2 linked regions of the Homo sapiens genome follow. The protein of the gene in region 1 binds, or shares a complex with, the protein of each later gene. Links are inferred from orthologs where the notes say so. Each region holds a gene or a part of one and is shown on either strand. Other genes may lie near its edges.

Region 1 (8,640 bases):
TACTATAGACCCATCCTTGCTCTGTGCTGGAATCATCACAGGAATCGCACCCATTCGACTTAGATTAGGGGCAGCTACCTTAGCAGGTGGGAGAGTCGGACTCTGAGGAGTGCGTTCAAAGTCTTCACTTGGTACTTGGTTATACTGAGTCTTGGAATATCCTTCCATGTTGGAAGGAGACATGGACCCCAGGGATGAATGATTACTGCCGATGTAGCTTCTGGCAGTGGACGTACGGCTCTTTGGAGGTGGCACATCTTCCCTGCAAAGCAAAATCCCCAATACATGTCAAGAGAATAAGTTTCTAAAAACCTACAATTATGCAAGCTATGAATCATGGATAAGAGCCTGTATTTAGGTACTAAACATATAAAAGTGTGTGTGTGTGTGTGTGTGTGTGTGTGTGTCACAAAAAAGCAAAAAGCACAAGCCATAACGTCATAAATTGTGTATGTCTCCAATCTGTCATTCTGATTAAAGAGTTATAACTTCACACTTAATGAAATATGGTATTTACACAAATGTAGATGATTCTAGAATGTTGTCTTACAAAACACAAATCTCAAATAGTTTCATATTCTAGTATCACTGGTCAAGACAATCTAGTTAAAGCCATGTAACACTTTATAGTTGAGAAAACACTAACACCTACAGGTATATTTCTATCTTAATCACACCTGTAATCCCAGCACTTTGGGAAGCTGAGGTGGGCAGATCACTTGAGATCAGGAGTTCAAGACTAGCCTGGCCAATATGGCAAAACCCCATCTCTACTAAAAATACAAAAATTAGCCGGGCTTGGTGGCAGGTGCCTGTAATCCCAGCTACTCGGGAGGCTGAGGCAGGAGAATCGCTTGAACCCAGGAGGCCAAAGTTGCAGTGAGCCAAGATTGCGCCACAGCACTCCAGCCTGGGCGCCAGAGTGAGACTCTGTCTCAAAAAAAGAGAAATAAATAATAAATTTTAAAATTTTTTAAAAAAGGAAAAGAAAAAATTCTTTTTATATTAAAGTTATCTAAAACCTTAGCTGAAAACACTACAGATTTAAGTTTGCTGGGAATTTAGGCATAAGAATTTTCATACCAAACACTGACAGAGAGCTCAACTGGCCCTCCACATCCACGGGTTCCACATCTGTGAAGCCAACAAACCATGTATAGAAAATTTTGTTTTAATATTTTTAAAATACCTAACATGTACAGCTTTTTTCTTGTCATTATTCCCTAAACAATACATTATAACAATTATTTACATAGTATTTACATTATATTAGGTATTATAAGTAATCTAGAGATGACTCGAAGTATACAGAAGAATGTGTGCAGGTTATATACATTGTATCTTTTTCTTTTTCCTTTTTTTTTTTTTAATAGAGACATCTTGCTCAGGTTGGTGTCTTGAACTCCTGGGCTCAAATGATCCTCCCATCTCCGCCTCCCAAAGTGCTGGGATTACAGGCGTGAGTCACTGCGCCTGGCCGCCATTTTATATCAGGGACTTGAGCATCCTTGGATTTTGGTATCTGCAGGAGGTCCTCCATGGATACCGAAGAATAACTATGTATATGAGTTATCTTTGGTGCATTTAAAAAATACAGCCATACTCGTTTCATTGTGCCTTGCTTTTATTACACTTCATAGATACTTACTGCATTTTTGTTTTGTTTTGTTTTTTCTTTACAAATTGAAGGTTTGTGGTAACCTTGTGTCAAGCAAATGTATCAATACCTTTTTTTTTTTTTTTTTTTTTGAGACAGAGTCTTGCTCTGTTGCCCAGGCTGGAGTGCAGTGGCGTGATCTCAGCTCACTGCAAGCTCCACCTCCCGGGTTCACGCCATTCTCTTGCCTCAGCCTCCCGAGTGGCTGGGACTACAGGCGCCCGCCACTGCACCCGGCTAATTTTTTGTATTTTTAGTAGAGACGGGGTTTCACCGTGTTAGCCAGGATGGTCTCTATCTCCTGACCTCGTGATCCACCCATATCGGCCTCCCTAAGTGCTGGGATTACAGGTGTGAGCCACCGTGCCCGGCCACCAGTACCATTTTTCCAACAGCATGTGCTCACTTCATGTCTGTGTTGCATTTTGGAAATTCTCACAACAGTTCAAACTTTCTCATAATCATACCTGTTAGGGTGATCTGTGATCAGTGATCTTTGATGTTACTATTTTAACTGTTTTGGGGCACCATGAATGATGCCCATAAGAGACAGCAAACTTAATAAATGTTGTGTGTGTTCTGGCCATCCCCCCCAACATCCTCCCCATCTCTCACCCCTCCCTCAGGCCTCCCTATTCCCTGAGACACAATGATATTGAAATTAGGCCACTTAATAACCCTACAATGACCTCTAAGTGTTCAAGTAAAAGGAATAGTTATCATGGCTCTACTTTTTAAAAAAATATCTTATTTATTTTGAGACTGTCAACCACGGTAGGGTGCAGTGGTGCGATCCTAGCTCACTGCAAGCTCAAACTCCTGGAGTCAAGCAATCATCAGCAAGGCTCTCTTTAAATCAAAACCCAGAAATAATTAACCTTAGTGAGGACAGCATGTTGAAAACCAACACTGGTTGAAAGCTAGTATCTTGCACCAAACAGCCAAACCAAATTGTAAATGCAAAGAAAAAGTTCTTAAAGTAAAGTCAAAGTGTTACTCCAGTGAACACGTGAACGATAAGAAAGTGAAGCAGTCTTATTGCTGATATGGAGAAAGTTTAGTGGTCTGGATAGAGGATCAAAATAGTCACAACATTCCCTTACACCAAAGCCCAATCCAGAGCAAGGCCCTAACTCTATTCAATTCTATCAAGGCTGAGAGAGCTAAGGCAGCTGCAGAAGAAAAGTTGGAAGCTAACAGAGGCTGGTTAATGAGTTTAGGGAAAAAGGCCATTTCCATAACATAAAAATACAAAGTGAAGCAACAAAGTGCTGATGAAGAAGCTACAGAAAGTTATCCAGAAGATCTAGTTAAAAGATCGTTGATGAAGGTAACTACACTAAGTAACAGATTTTCAATAGAGACAAAACAGACTTCTACTGGAAGAAGACACCATCTAGGCCTTTAGTGGCTAAAGATGTCAATGTCTGGCTTCAAAGCTTTAAAGGACAGGTTGACATCTTGGCAGGAGCCAATGCAGCCCAGGAGTTCGAGACCACCCTTGGCAACATGGTGAAACCCCATCTCTACAAAAAATACAAGAATTAGTCAGGTGTGGTGGCTTATGCCTGTAGTCCCAGATACTCGGAAAGCTGAGGTGGGAGGATCACTTGAACCCAGGGGGCAGAGGTTGCAGTGGGCCATAATTGTATCACTCCACTCCAGCCTGGGCAACAGAGAGCGAGACCTTGTCTCAGAAAACAAACAACAAAAAACCCAACAACCAAAGAAAGAAATTGCCATAGCCACTGCAACCTTCAGCAACTACCATCCTGATCAGCCACCAGTCATCAACAGTGAGGCATGACCTTCCACCAGCAGAGAGATTAAGACTCACTGAGGGCTCAGATAATCATTAGCATTTTTTAGCAATATTTTTTAATTGGGGTATCTACACTGTTTTTTTACACATAATGCTACTGCACATTTTAGACTACAATATAGTATAAACATAACCTTTTATGCACTGGAAAAACAAAAACATTCATGTGATTTATCGCAGTGTGCGATAACTCTGAAGTGTGCCTGTACAAGTGTCCAGACCCCACCCTAGACCTGCCAAATGTCAATTTCTAGGGTGTGAAGTCATGTGTTATTACTTCTAAAATTCTATTATCTAATATGCACACTTCTCGTTAAGACCTACTGATTTAGAATATTTAAGGAAAATAAAAATTATACTACCAATTGTTCTACAAACTTCCAGATTACTTGATACAATCAGGTCAGTTTTTTTTTCAAACCTCAATATCTACTTCATCCCTACCACTGCAGGCAGGGATTCTTCTCAAGAAGCAGGCAGTCTTGAGATAATCATTTGGCAGTGGTTCTTAAAATGGGGTACGAGAAGGTTGGGGAGCGGGGCACAACGAATGGTGGTTGGAGCTCTGCACTTGCAGTTAGAAGTAAATGCTTTCAAATGTATTGAGAAGGCGGCCAGAGCTTTTACCCATTCTCCTAAGAAAGATGCTTTGGGTGGTTAATAAGAGAACGAATGCTTTAGAGAAATGACATATATTTGGTATACATCAGTCAACTCCTGTCTCACTTAATTACCTGATATCGTGATGAACTTCCTTTTCATATTTTTCTTCTCTGCGCTTTTTACGACAGCAAAAGATGATAAGACCAATGAGCGCTAGAGCAAGCAAAGTTCCTATAATGGCTCCTGCAATTAGTCCAGCTTTATTTGAAGCTAAAATAAGAAGAATTAATAGTAAAAAATATATACATATATACATGTATAGATACTGAAGGTAGGCTATACATTTTTAGATTGATTTCATCACGTGTTAACTTTAAGACAAATTATTTAGTCTTTTTGATCCGGGGGAAAAATTCATAAAAAGAACTGTCTTCTGAACTGTATAATCTATTCCAAGCATTAAAATGATAAAACCTGTCTGAAAGATTTTAATATTCAAAGCTATCTTGGTTAACATATAAGAATGTTCTAAGCTACTCATACTTATAACAGCTAAATATGGTACAAGGGTTGATTTGACAACTCTTACCTTCTTAATATATCATTGCAATTATGAAGTTTTTTTAATAAAATGTATTTTTCTAGAAAAGCTAATAATCAAACCACAGTGTTCTGATCAAAGTCAGTGTCCCTTTGTCCTTAATACACACTTGCTGACTGAACTAAAGGAGGTGGTATAAAGATAACAGAAACAAAACCACCAACAGAAAGAAGATAACTTACGAGGGACAACGTTTAGACGCAACAGGCACTGATCAGAGCCCACTCTGTTTCTGACTGTACAGCTGTATGTCCCAGAGTACTCAGAAGAGGCATTTTTTACAGATATAACAGATGAAGTCATTTCTATGGAAGGAGGAAAAAGAAAACAAACTCATTTTTATAGTATGTATTGTTATCAGGTGTTAGTAAACATAGTCCTCTCCAAATTAAACAATCCAGTTAAAAGCAAGACAGACCAAGGCTGGATGCAAGCAAACTGGCATTGAGCCACACAGATGTTTCCAGAATTCAATCATGCTTCCAGTTCACATGTATCAAGGTGAAAGTAACCATGATCCCCTGCAGCACACAGCCTCAGCTGGAGCAGGGGTGCTGGTCCACTGTGTACCTGCTGCAAACCCATCTTGGGGCACATAAGACTATAAACGCTACCGCATTCCACAAAGGATCTTTCCTGCAGCAGGAAAACATACAAAACCTATTTTATTCCCCCCTAGATGGAAGAAACATACAAAAGGAAGTCAGAAGAGGACTCCCAGATTGGTCTCTTAGTTTGAAAAACAGAGAGGCAGAGAGAAAACCTACTAAAGACCAGGATGCAGTGGATGGCGGGGTGGAGCCTGGTCATCAGTTTGAACTAAGAAGTCAATTATAACAAATAGGTGAGCAGATTTGGCCAATTTGTAACTTTCTAGTTAGTGTCACACGGGTTTTCTTTTAATTTACAGACACACCATGGGTAAATTACTATATTTTCAATCTAGGCAAAACACTAAAGAGCCAACTCTTACTATACTTTAGCCACCATCTAAGTTGTAATCATGAACATGTCTCATCAATTAAAAAAAAAAAATTCGCCAGGCGCAATGGCCCACACCTATACTTTGGGAGGCTGAGGTGGGTGGAGAGCTTGAGCCCAGGAGTTTGAGACCAGTGTGGGCAACATGCAGAAACTCCATGTCTACAAAAAATACAAAAATTAGCAGGGTGTGGTGACACATGCCTGTAGTCTCAGCTACTCGGGAGGCTGAAGTGGGAGGCTCACTTAAGCCTGGGAGGTGAAGACTGCAGGGAGCCGAGATTCTACCACTGCACGCCCAGCCTGGGTGACAGAGCGAGACCCCTTGTCTCGGAAAAAAAAAAAAAAAAAAAAAACCCAAAAAAAAGTACCAAAGTAACTAATATCCTAAAAAAATGAAATCATAGAATAGCTCTTCATTTATAATATATGACACTAAATTGATATTATAAAACACTGAATAATTCCTATGGAAATCCTGATTATTCTATGTAGAAAAGGGAAAGAAAGCATCTGGGAATCTACAATATACAAGCAGGCTGGGCACATGCCTGGGCTCATGCCTGTAATCCCAGCACTTTGGGAGGCCAAGGAAAGAGGACTCCTTGAGCCCAGGAGTTTGAGACCAGCACAGGCAACGCAGGGAGATCCTGTCTCTACACATTTTTTAAAAAAAAAATTAGCAGGGTGTGATGGCATGCACCTGTAGTTCCAGCTAACTGGGAGGCTGAGGTGGGAGGATGACTTGAGCCTAGGAGGTTGAAGCTTCAGTGAGCCGTGATTGCAGTGAGCCTGGGTGACAGAGCAAGGCCCTATCTCAAATCACACACACACCCCTACTAGATCTTAGTCCAAATCAATGGCATGTGGTACAAATACTATTATCAGCAGTACCTGCTAACCATGAAGTGGGCATTTTCTGTGAGTCAGACAATTTTTGCCACTCATACTGTAATGGAAGTGAACCTTCTTTTGGTTCACATTTTATCTTAAAGTCACTTCCAATTTCTTCAGATCCATCAACGTAACATCTCGCACCTGAAGGCTTAACTGAAAGAGAAAACAAATTATAAATTTACATAAGAGAATGGAACTTACTTTTATGAATACAGCATTGTACACAACCACTGACTCATTATCAGTTGGTTCTGGGTTCAGAATTCACAAAAGAATGAAAGACCACAGTAAGTGATCAACATCAGTTTATTCAGCTTTATCTGACACAAAACAGCAAAGAATAAGCTCAGACAAGCAGCCACTGCATTAGTAGATATGGCAATATCTCAGGCATAGCTCGGTGCCTGTCCATTTCATGGGGCACACCTGAAAAAAAGCAAGAATGATGCACTTGCTTTTTTCAGCAAGACCACTTGAGAGTCAAGGAAGCTCCCCCTCCCATTCCTTAGCTATTCTTCCCCATGCCTGACATGTAACCCTCTGGCAGTATGTACCAAGTCACATCCCTCTAGGCGCCATAACCCTGACAATCAGGCAGTTTATCATCAACAATACTAACAACACTTAGTGTGGCAAGGAACAACTAGCATTCTGCATTTACATCACCTCAAATCCATCCAAAGAGCAGGCTACAAAAAAGAAAACCTGGGCTGGGCATAGTGTAATCTCAGCACTTTGGAGGCCAAGACAGTGGGGGGATCACTTGAGGTCAGGGGTTTGAGACCAGCCTGGGTAACATAGCGAGACTCTGTCATAATAAAAACTTCGAAAAATTAGCTGGGTGTGGTGATGTGTGCCTGTGGTCGTAGCTACTTGGGAGGCTGGGGTAGGAGGATGACTTGAGACCAGGATTTTGAGGCTGCAGTGAAGCTTTGATCATGTCACTGCACTCCAGCCTAGGTGACAGAACCAGACCCTGAATCAAAAAGATATTCACAGCCTGGAAATTCATGTGTAAAAAAGAATATTTAATTAAAAAAAAAAAAAGGAAATCTGAGGTTATATTCCAGGTGTTTCTGGGTAACTGTTTAGAACAACTACTAACTCCATTACCTGCAACTCACCCCAATCCTGGATTAACACCTTGGCATTGCATACTCTTCTGCTGAACTTTAATAAGGTATAATATTCACACAATAAAGTTAACATGTTAATCACGTGGGCTGATCACTTTTAATAAATGTGTCTATATCCATTAAGCACCACTCCAACCCTCTCCCAAGGAAGTTCCCTCATGCTGGTTACAATAGATGGGACTCCAAAACCCTGGACCCAGGAAGCCACTGATCAGATTCTACCACTGTAGATTAGCTCTTCTTCTGGAACCACATGAATAGAATACTACAGTATGTATTTTCTTGTCTTCTTTTATTCAGCATAACATTTCTGAGATTGAGCCGTTATTGTATATATAGTTATTTTAGTATTTCAATGGACTATAACACAAGTTTGCTTATCCAGTCACCTGTTAATGAATACTGTGTTTCCAGTTTGGGGCTACTGTCAAAGCCCAGTCAGCCAAACTGACAAGGAGCAAGTGTGTGGTCTATCAAAATCAGATTGACTAGTGAGGACGGCATTACGAGGAACCACGGAATGCCACTGGACAAGAGCAGGGATGCTGAAGGATTCTCAGGAGGTTGTAAGGAAGTAGCCATCAGCTGTCAATCAGCTGTTTCTGAGATTAGGAAAAATGAGGATTAAACAGGAAGTGGGAGCTGTGAGGAGGTGGGGCCATTTAGTAATTGAGTATTCCAGTAAAGGATGGGTAGAGAAATGTGGGTCTGCGGGCAACACTAGAAAAGACAGCAATAGTCTATGCTTTACTACTACTCTATAACCTTGGGAGAGACAATGTTTTCTATAAACTCTGTGGCTGACTTTAATCTGTATCTGTCCTTCCGGCTGATAAACGTCAAGACTTTTTTCTTTTTTAGTTTAAGCTGATTTTCATTTTTTCAGTCGTGAATGGGTTTTTATTCTTTCACTACTATGAATAAAGGTAAATGCATTTTTGTT
Region 2 (7,897 bases), on another chromosome or scaffold:
TCCTAGACCCCTAATCTAACAGGTCAGGTCAACAAGTCCTTGACTCCTACTACAGACTCTTGAAGTTGTCTTCCTTCCAGTCTGTCACTGCCGCCTTAGTTCTGGCTGTCTTCATCTCTGTCTTGAACTGTAGGCCTCTAACCAGTCTCTGCTTTCTCTCTCAGCCACTGCTCCTCATTCTTCACGCGGCTCTTGGTGCCATCTTTCTAAATCACATTAAGAACTTTCTCTTCCACTGCTAATAATCTTTCAATGTTGTTTTCATTGCCTGCAGAAAAATGCCAGATTCTTGGTTGAGATAGTCAAGGTCCTTCCTGACTTGGACCCTGTCATCTCTCCAGCGAAATTCTCCAGCACACCCACAAATGCCACTTTTGTGCCAGACCCGTTGAACTCTTTCTAGTTTCTAAAATCATCATCCTGTCAGGCCTCCAGATCTCATGCAGAACATCCCCTCTGTCCTTCTCCATATTGTCTTCCCAACAAACTGGATGTTTCCTGTAAGTCTTAGGTTAAACTTTAGAACTTTTGCTGGCAAATTCTCACTTGCTGCATATAGAATTGGACACCCTTTTTTCTGTGCCCCTCTGTTCCCCATACAGACTTCTGTTGTAGCGCCTACAGCAGCCTGTGGTTTTCTGTTGACGTGTTTGTCTTCTTCCTTGGAAGCAGGGACCACACATCATCATTCATCTCTGAATCCCCTGTACCTAGTGCTGTCTGGCCCTGAGGAGGTGTTTGCTTTATGTATTTAGAAAGAACCATGCAGATGAGTAGAAGGTTCCATATGGGCAGAAGTACCTCCGGAGGCTTTACTTGGTATCGTCACTGTGGGGCTGAGTCTTGCGGCATGAGTTCTTTTGAAGACAACCACTTGCCCTAAGGAAGATCAGCAGCCTCTCAAATGCCTGTTATTTCTGGGTCCTTGTTAAGCCAAATTTTAGAATAGAATTGTTGATGTGAAAGGAAACTTTACTAGAGGTGAACTGCTAGCCTCTTCTCCCACCCACCTTAATCTACATTTTAGGGTAAACGAGGGGGTTAGACTTTGGTTCTCAATCTCATGGAGACAGTGTCCCTAGTGTCCAGATATGGGGTGGAGTCTGGCCTTCCCCTCCGCTTCGTGGCCTGGCTGGTGCTACTTGGTATAGGGCTGTGGGGCTCTCAGCTCTTTGCTAAAGTATTGAGACCCTCTCCTTGCTTTTCTACTTTCCCAAGCACTGGTGACCCCGGCAGCCCTGAGGCCTCTGGTCTTGGGTGGTAATCAGTTGGTGATCATTGTGGGAATTGTCTGTGCCACAATCCTGCTGCTCCCTGTTCTGATATTGATCGTGAAGAAGACCTGTGGAAATAAGAGGTACAGGGCTACCCCCACCCCTTGGATTGGGAGGCTGGGGGTGCAAGGCTGCCTCTACCCCAAAGTAGAACAGGGTGATAGGGCCCTACTTATGCCATTCTCACAGAAGGGGGTATTTTTAAATGGAATCATCTGTGGTAACCCTGCCCACTTTGCTTACTGTGCCCGGGAAAAGAATTTAATATTCCTACGCTCTCCTCATTCACTTTGTTATTATGTAAAGACTACAAACTCCCTTAGAAATGGGGGCCTCAGTAGGGCATAATTCAGAGCATAAATCTTACACAAGAACTATCATGGTACCATTCACTGCCTAAAAGATGATTTTTAAATTATCCATACTGTACGTTCCGCATAGAAGCTAAGATCTTAAGGGTTGCCAGTGGTTTTATCTAAAAGACCACATTCTAATTATGAGATACGATCTTTGAATGGGTGCCCTCAGGTTCTAAATGAATTATTATTAAAAGATGCTTTTGGCCAGGCGCAGTGTCTCATGCCTGTAATCCCAGCACTTTGAGAGGCCAAGGCGGGCGGATCACGAGGTCAGGAGATCGAGACCATCCTTGCTAACACGGTGAAAAGCTGTCTTTACTAAAAATGCAAAAAATTAGCTGGACGTGGTGGCATGTGCTTGTACTCCCAGCTACTTGGGAGGCTGAGGCAGGAGAATGGCGTGAACCTGGGAGGTGGAGCTTGCAGTGAGCCGAGATCACGCCACTGCACTCCAGCCTGGGTGACAGAGCGAGACTCTGTCTCAAAAAAAAAAAAAAAAAAAAATAATAATAATAATAATGTGCTTTTAAAGGCCTGAATTTCATCGGTAGTTCTCCCAGGGTCTCAGAAGTGCCCAGATGCTCCAACAGGGACACTTGTGTTTCACTGGCTGTTGGCAGATCCATGTCCCTCAGTTTATCCAACTATCGATGGAGTATGCTTGTAGTGCAGATCGACTCCCTTGTTGAAATAGTGTCAGTGGGAAAGGGCCTCATGAATAGTCCTGACTTTTGAGTGTTCTTTCCCAGTGGGTCTTGGATCCTGCAGAAAACACTTGTGCCTGCTAAGTTTTCACTTGCACTCCCTAGGGCTTCCTGATTTGGTTTTGAACTTGGCTGGCCTCTCTAAAGGTCTTTGCTCTGGGCATGCTCGGAGCACTGAGCTAGACAACCTGGATTCCACTCTCAGCTTACTTCCCCTGTCGGGACCTCAGTTTCCCGCCAAAGGAAAGGTAGCACTTCCATGTCTAGTCGTTTATTCTAAAGAAATAATTAAATGGATATGCTGAGATTTGTGCAAAACTGCCGTCTTGCTTATAATTAAAAATAGGGATAATTGCCAGTGTCTGTCAGAAAGGCAACGATTCAGTGAACCAGTCAATGAAACACTCCAGATCCCTCTACATAATGACATGGAAAGATATCCAAGGAGTAAAAATACAGAATTTATGGTATGACCTCATTTTTATAAAAGAGAAAATAATATGATGCTCACTCCAGCAGCATATGTACTAAATACATTTTATGTGAGCTTATGCTTACACTGAGAGAGGCTTGGAAGGACAGTTGTAAAATGTGGGTAATTGTGTGGAATTTGAAGTGAAGGAGAAGGTGGATCCCATGGGGTGACGGGTTGCAGGGAACTTCCACTTCCAACTGTCTACATTTCTGTATTATCTGAATTATTTGACAGTGAGAAGATACAACTTTAAAAGCAGAAAATACAAGGAAAATATTTCCACTGAGACCAAAACATATGGTTTCTTTTCTAGCTTAAACCTTGAATTTTTTTTTTTTTTTTTTAGTTCTGACTTAGGCCAAAATAGAAAAAAAGAAAGTATGTTCAGAAGGCAAATGGTCATGAGATCAAAGGCCAAGGGACCCCGACAGGGCAGGCGCAGAGCTCCTGCTTGGGGCTTGGGTCGGGTGTTTGTGGGGGTTATTCTGCTCCGCCCCCCGGAAAGGCCAGGAGCCCTTCGGATTGGCGTCTTGCTGAGCTCCTGCTGCCCCCTGCTGGTTTCGCGGCACTCCCTGGTCCTCAGAAATGTAGACAGGATGGTCAAATGGAATCCCATCTCCCCTCTCTCTCTTCATTCACTTAAAATTACCTCTCCCATACGGACTGAAAGTGGCTTGAGTGATAATAGAGAAGTTGAAGCTGCTTTTCAGCCTAAATTATCTCCAGAACGGCTTCTTGTTCTTCATTAGAAGAGATGCGCTTCTCAGGTTTCCAGGTGAGCCGGGTAGCCCTGGCTGTAGGAGTCCAGAGAGAATAGTTCCTTCTCTGGTGTCTCTCTCTTCACGAAGCCAAGAGGGGATCTCATGTAGGGACCCTTGAATAAACCATGCCCGCTGGTTAATTCCACATGCTTTTCATGTCTTGCAGTTCAGTGAATTCTACAGTCTTGGTGAAGAACACGAAGAAGACTAATCCAGAGATAAAAGAAAAACCCTGCCATTTTGAAAGATGTGAAGGGGAGGTGAACACACGCTTCAGCCTAAAACACTAAGTAGATGCAGGCCTGGGCCGTTCTCATACCCCCGGGAACCATATCTTACCCATTGTATGTCGCAGCTTGCAGGCCAGTGCTTGGCACAGAGCAGGGACTCAGGAAGCCTTTGTCACTAAAGTAAGAGCCTCTGCGGAGTACAGTGCATGGGGTCGGCTGGGACAGCCCCAGGCAGCAGATCCTGGTATTGGGCTGAGGAAAGAGCACTGCGCTTGGAGTCAGTAAGATCTGCCACCTCCCTGAGTCTCATCAGCAAAATGAGGATAAAGATAAAGATACTATAGTTGCCCAGCCTGCTTGACAGGGTTGTTGTAAGGTTCACATAAGATGATGATATGCAAATGCTTTGTAATCTAGGAGGTGCTATTTGTCTAAAGTCTAATGGAGAATTATAATACATCCAGGAGTTAAGGAGTTCTAATGCTTAAAATGAAATAGTCTAAGATCTTAGCAAGAAAGGATTAAGAAGGACTTTTCTCTCCATATTGATTTTGTAATGGAGTTATAAATAATTGCTTCTAGAGACTGAGAAATTGATTGGTTTTCTTTAACTCCTATTCTTTCTTTTCTTTCTTTAATTTTAAAAAAACTCTTTGAATAGTTACCTTTCTCTATTTTGGGCTGTTTTTGTCCCAAGAGTAGGATTTTTTCCCAGTAGAGTGCAGTGGTCCAAGAATGGGCCACTGGATGATACTGCTTTACCAACGAGTGACAGGACCATGAACCTCACAGTTGTGAGGTTCAATGAGGGCTGGCCCTGCCACATAAATCCTCTGAGGGAGATGATGACAATTCACTGCTGATTAATGCCATTCTGCCTTTACTGTAATTAGAAGGAAATAACCCCAGAATACAAGGAATTTAGCAAGATAAGGAACCCCTGCTGCTACCTAAACATCCATCTAAACAAAGATGTTTGGCTTTTGAAGCAAAGAGTTTGGTTCTTAAGACTGTGTTCTTTGACAGTTAATTTTCAAGAAGACTGAAGACTGAATTATCATTGTTGAGAATTCTCTAGGTCTCAGTAACCCTCTGAACCAGCAGTTTGGGTGGTCGATGCCTAGCAAATAGGAGTGGGTGGCCTTTTCTCTGGTGTATAAGATTCATCTAATTTTTAGGAATTTTTGTACCATTTTCCCCCTCTAGAAACACATTTACTCCCCAATAATTGTACGGGAGGTGATCGAGGAAGAAGAACCAAGTGAAAAATCAGAGGCCACCTACATGACCATGGTGAGAATGATTCTGGCCTCAGCTGAGCCAGGTGTCAGAGGCTCAGGTGGTGGTGGTGGTGGGCGTGGCTGGGTTGCCCAAGGGAGGCTGCTGAGGGCGGTGATTTTTCTAAGTAGCAGAAAAGTCTGAGAAACTGAAGTTCTGCTGGATAGAAGAGTGATATCAAACTTTCTTACCCAAGCTCAAGGATTAAAGGTTATCACCAGAGATTATTTATATTAGTGGTGAAAAGAAGTGAAGAGTGGCTTTTACTGAGGGCAGGGAGGACGTCTTTTGCCTCATCAGTTCAATCTAATAAAGAAAACACGGCCGGGTGTGGTGGCTCATGCCTGAAATCCCAGCACTTTGGGAGGCCGAGGTGGGCGGATTGCTTGAGGCCAGGAGTTCAAGACCAGCCTGGCCAATGTGGCAAAACTCCCTCTCTACTAAAAATACAAAAATTGGCCAGGTGTGGAGATGCGTGCCTATAATCCCAGCTACTTGGGAGGCTGAGGCACGAGAATTGCTTGGACCTGGAAGGCGTTGGTTACATGAGCCGAGATCCACCACTACACTCCAGCCTGGGAGACAGAGTAAGACTCTGTTTCAAAAAAAAAAAAAAAGGCCGAGCATGGTGGCTCACACCTGTAAACCTAGCACTTTGGGAGGCTGAGGCAGGTGGATCACTTGAGGTCAGGAGTTTGAGACCAGCCTGGCCAACATGGTGAAACACTGTCTTACTAAAAATACAAAAAAATTAGCCAGGCATGGTGGCGGGCACCTGTAATCCCAGCTACTTGGGAGGCTGAGGCAGGAGAATTGCTTGAACCTGGGAGGTGGAGGTTGCAGTGAGCTAAGATCGCGCCACTGCACTCCAGCCTGGGAAACAGAGCGAGACTCCTGTCTCAAAACAACAACAACAACAAAGAAAATAGGATAAATAGGATAAGATCCTTGGGCAAGTATTGTGTTGCTGTGAGTCGTTTTCCTTGCTATCAAAAGGTCAAAGTAGGGTTCCTTCCAATGCTTAGATTTTGTTTCTTAACTTTGTGACTTATTATACCTTCTCATAACCTAACTGCCAGGCAGGCTGCATGCTGGATCTCATACAATATTTTGGAGTCTGATTCCTAATTTCCCTTTGCTTAGACTTCTGTAGCCCCTTAGAGAACTGCAGTGCCTGGAAAAGGCACCTCGGGGCGTGCAGTGAGTGGGGGTAGGGACAAAAGGAGTGAGCTGGCGATGAGCACGGTGCTATTTGTAGACTAATTATAGGCACCCAGCCTATTAAGGAGCAGTGTTCTGTGGGTTTGGGAAGGCTGGCCTCCTCTGCTTGTGGAATGATGGGCTTTGTTTGTTCCTATCGTACCAGCCCTGAGGACACATGACTCCCAGCTGATTGCAGCAGAGAGAGGTCTGCCAGGGAAGTGTGAGATCAGAGGCCTGGCCTGGATCCACCGAGTGAAACATTAACTCCACCCTGAAGTTGCAGCTGAATGGAATCATTTTCCCTCTGTATCTTTCTCCCATACTGTTATGTGATGCTGCAGTAACTTGCGAGGCCTCATCCTGGCTCCTGGAGACCTGCTGATACAGCTGCCTTGTGGCTACTGCTGAGTGGGTCACCAGCCAGGGTGGCACTGTTTGCAGAACGTCTCCGAGGTGGAGATGATGCAGGAGGAACAATTGTCTTCACAGCTAACTTCCCCAGGTTTAATGCTAGGCGATTATGGTTTTGATTCTGTTGAAAACACCATTCCTGTCCTCTTGATCTAGATCCAATAGAGTAAGAGAAGAGGCCTGGGCTGCAAACTCAAAGGCTGGCAGGGGCCAGTCAAGTTATTTTAAAATATGATGTGCCAAGTTAAATAAGGCTGTTGGTGAATTTGGGACTGCAGGCCACTTGTTTGAGACTGCATTTATAAAGGTGTTCTCTGATAGGGAGCAGGGGTAACAAAGAGCCTTTGTTTTTTGTTGTTGAATTGATGAAATTCATGTAAATGTAGTGGCACCTTGCTGTTTTCCCTTTCTGAGGCTGTACACACAGAGGTTAAGATCACAAGCTGTGGAGTTAGACAGACCTGGGTCCAAATTCTAACTCTGTGTTGCAGCCAGATGGTCTTGGGCAGTAACTTGGCCTGTCTGAGCCTCAGTTTCCTTATCCTTAGAAAGGCAATAATAATACCTACCTCCTGGTGGTAAGGATCACATGAGATAATGCATATGAAATTCAGTACTGGGCCGGGCTCATGAGAAGAGCTCAATGAACAGCAGCTGCTATGATTATGGAACTACTTCTTACAAGCATGTTTTGTTTCTTTCTGCCCTTCCCCCACAGCACCCAGTTTGGCCTTCTCTGAGGTCAGATCGGAACAACTCACTTGAAAAAAAGTCAGGTGGGGGAATGCCAAAAACACAGCAAGCCTTTTGAGAAGAATGGAGAGTCCCTTCATCTCAGCAGCGGTGGAGACTCTCTCCTGTGTGTGTCCTGGGCCACTCTACCAGTGATTTCAGACTCCCGCTCTCCCAGCTGTCCTCCTGTCTCATTGTTTGGTCAATACACTGAAGATGGAGAATTTGGAGCCTGGCAGAGAGACTGGACAGCTCTGGAGGAACAGGCCTGCTGAGGGGAGGGGAGCATGGACTTGGCCTCTGGAGTGGGACACTGGCCCTGGGAACCAGGCTGAGCTGAGTGGCCTCAAACCCCCCGTTGGATCAGACCCTCCTGTGGGCAGGGTTCTTAGTGGATGAGTTACTGGGAAGAATCAGAGATAAAAACCAACCCAAATCATTCCTCTGGCACATTATTTCTAAATAAGTGT

What was found. The genes of interacting proteins can lie anywhere in the genome.
Region 2: the proteins of CXADR (region 1) and JAML are in contact, whole or in part, in a crystal structure (PDB 3MJ7), measured with the Mus musculus proteins. The link is inferred for Homo sapiens from one-to-one orthologs. Residues at the interface, in NP_001020363.1 of Mus musculus: Thr23, Gly51, Pro52, Asp54, Glu56, Leu58, Ser60, Gln65, Ile66, Val67, Asp68, Gln69, Val70, Leu73, Tyr83, Lys121, Lys123, Lys124, Ala125, Pro126, Gly127, Val128, Asn130; in NP_001005421.3 of Mus musculus: Arg57, Asp59, Ala69, Tyr72, Phe75, Tyr77, Leu80, Val82, Glu120, Arg122, Ser127, Met128, Val129, Met130, Lys131.

What each region holds. Positions count from the first base shown.
Region 1 is NC_000021.9:17,557,050-17,565,689, reverse strand, and holds part of CXADR (coxsackievirus and adenovirus receptor isoform 1 precursor), read right to left. Parts: intron 6,715-8,640; coding exon 6,559-6,714; intron 4,989-6,558; coding exon 4,866-4,988; intron 4,353-4,865; coding exon 4,214-4,352; intron 263-4,213; coding exon 1-262. UniProt on the Homo sapiens protein: Component of the epithelial apical junction complex that may function as a homophilic cell adhesion molecule and is essential for tight junction integrity.
Region 2 is NC_000011.10:118,193,934-118,201,830, reverse strand, and holds part of JAML (junctional adhesion molecule-like isoform 1 precursor), read left to right. Parts: intron 1-1,218; coding exon 1,219-1,357; intron 1,358-3,739; coding exon 3,740-3,833; exon of another isoform or gene 3,834-3,863; intron 3,864-5,009; coding exon 5,010-5,096; intron 5,097-7,413; coding exon 7,414-7,506; 3' UTR 7,507-7,897. UniProt on the Homo sapiens protein: Transmembrane protein of the plasma membrane of leukocytes that control their migration and activation through interaction with CXADR, a plasma membrane receptor found on adjacent epithelial and endothelial cells.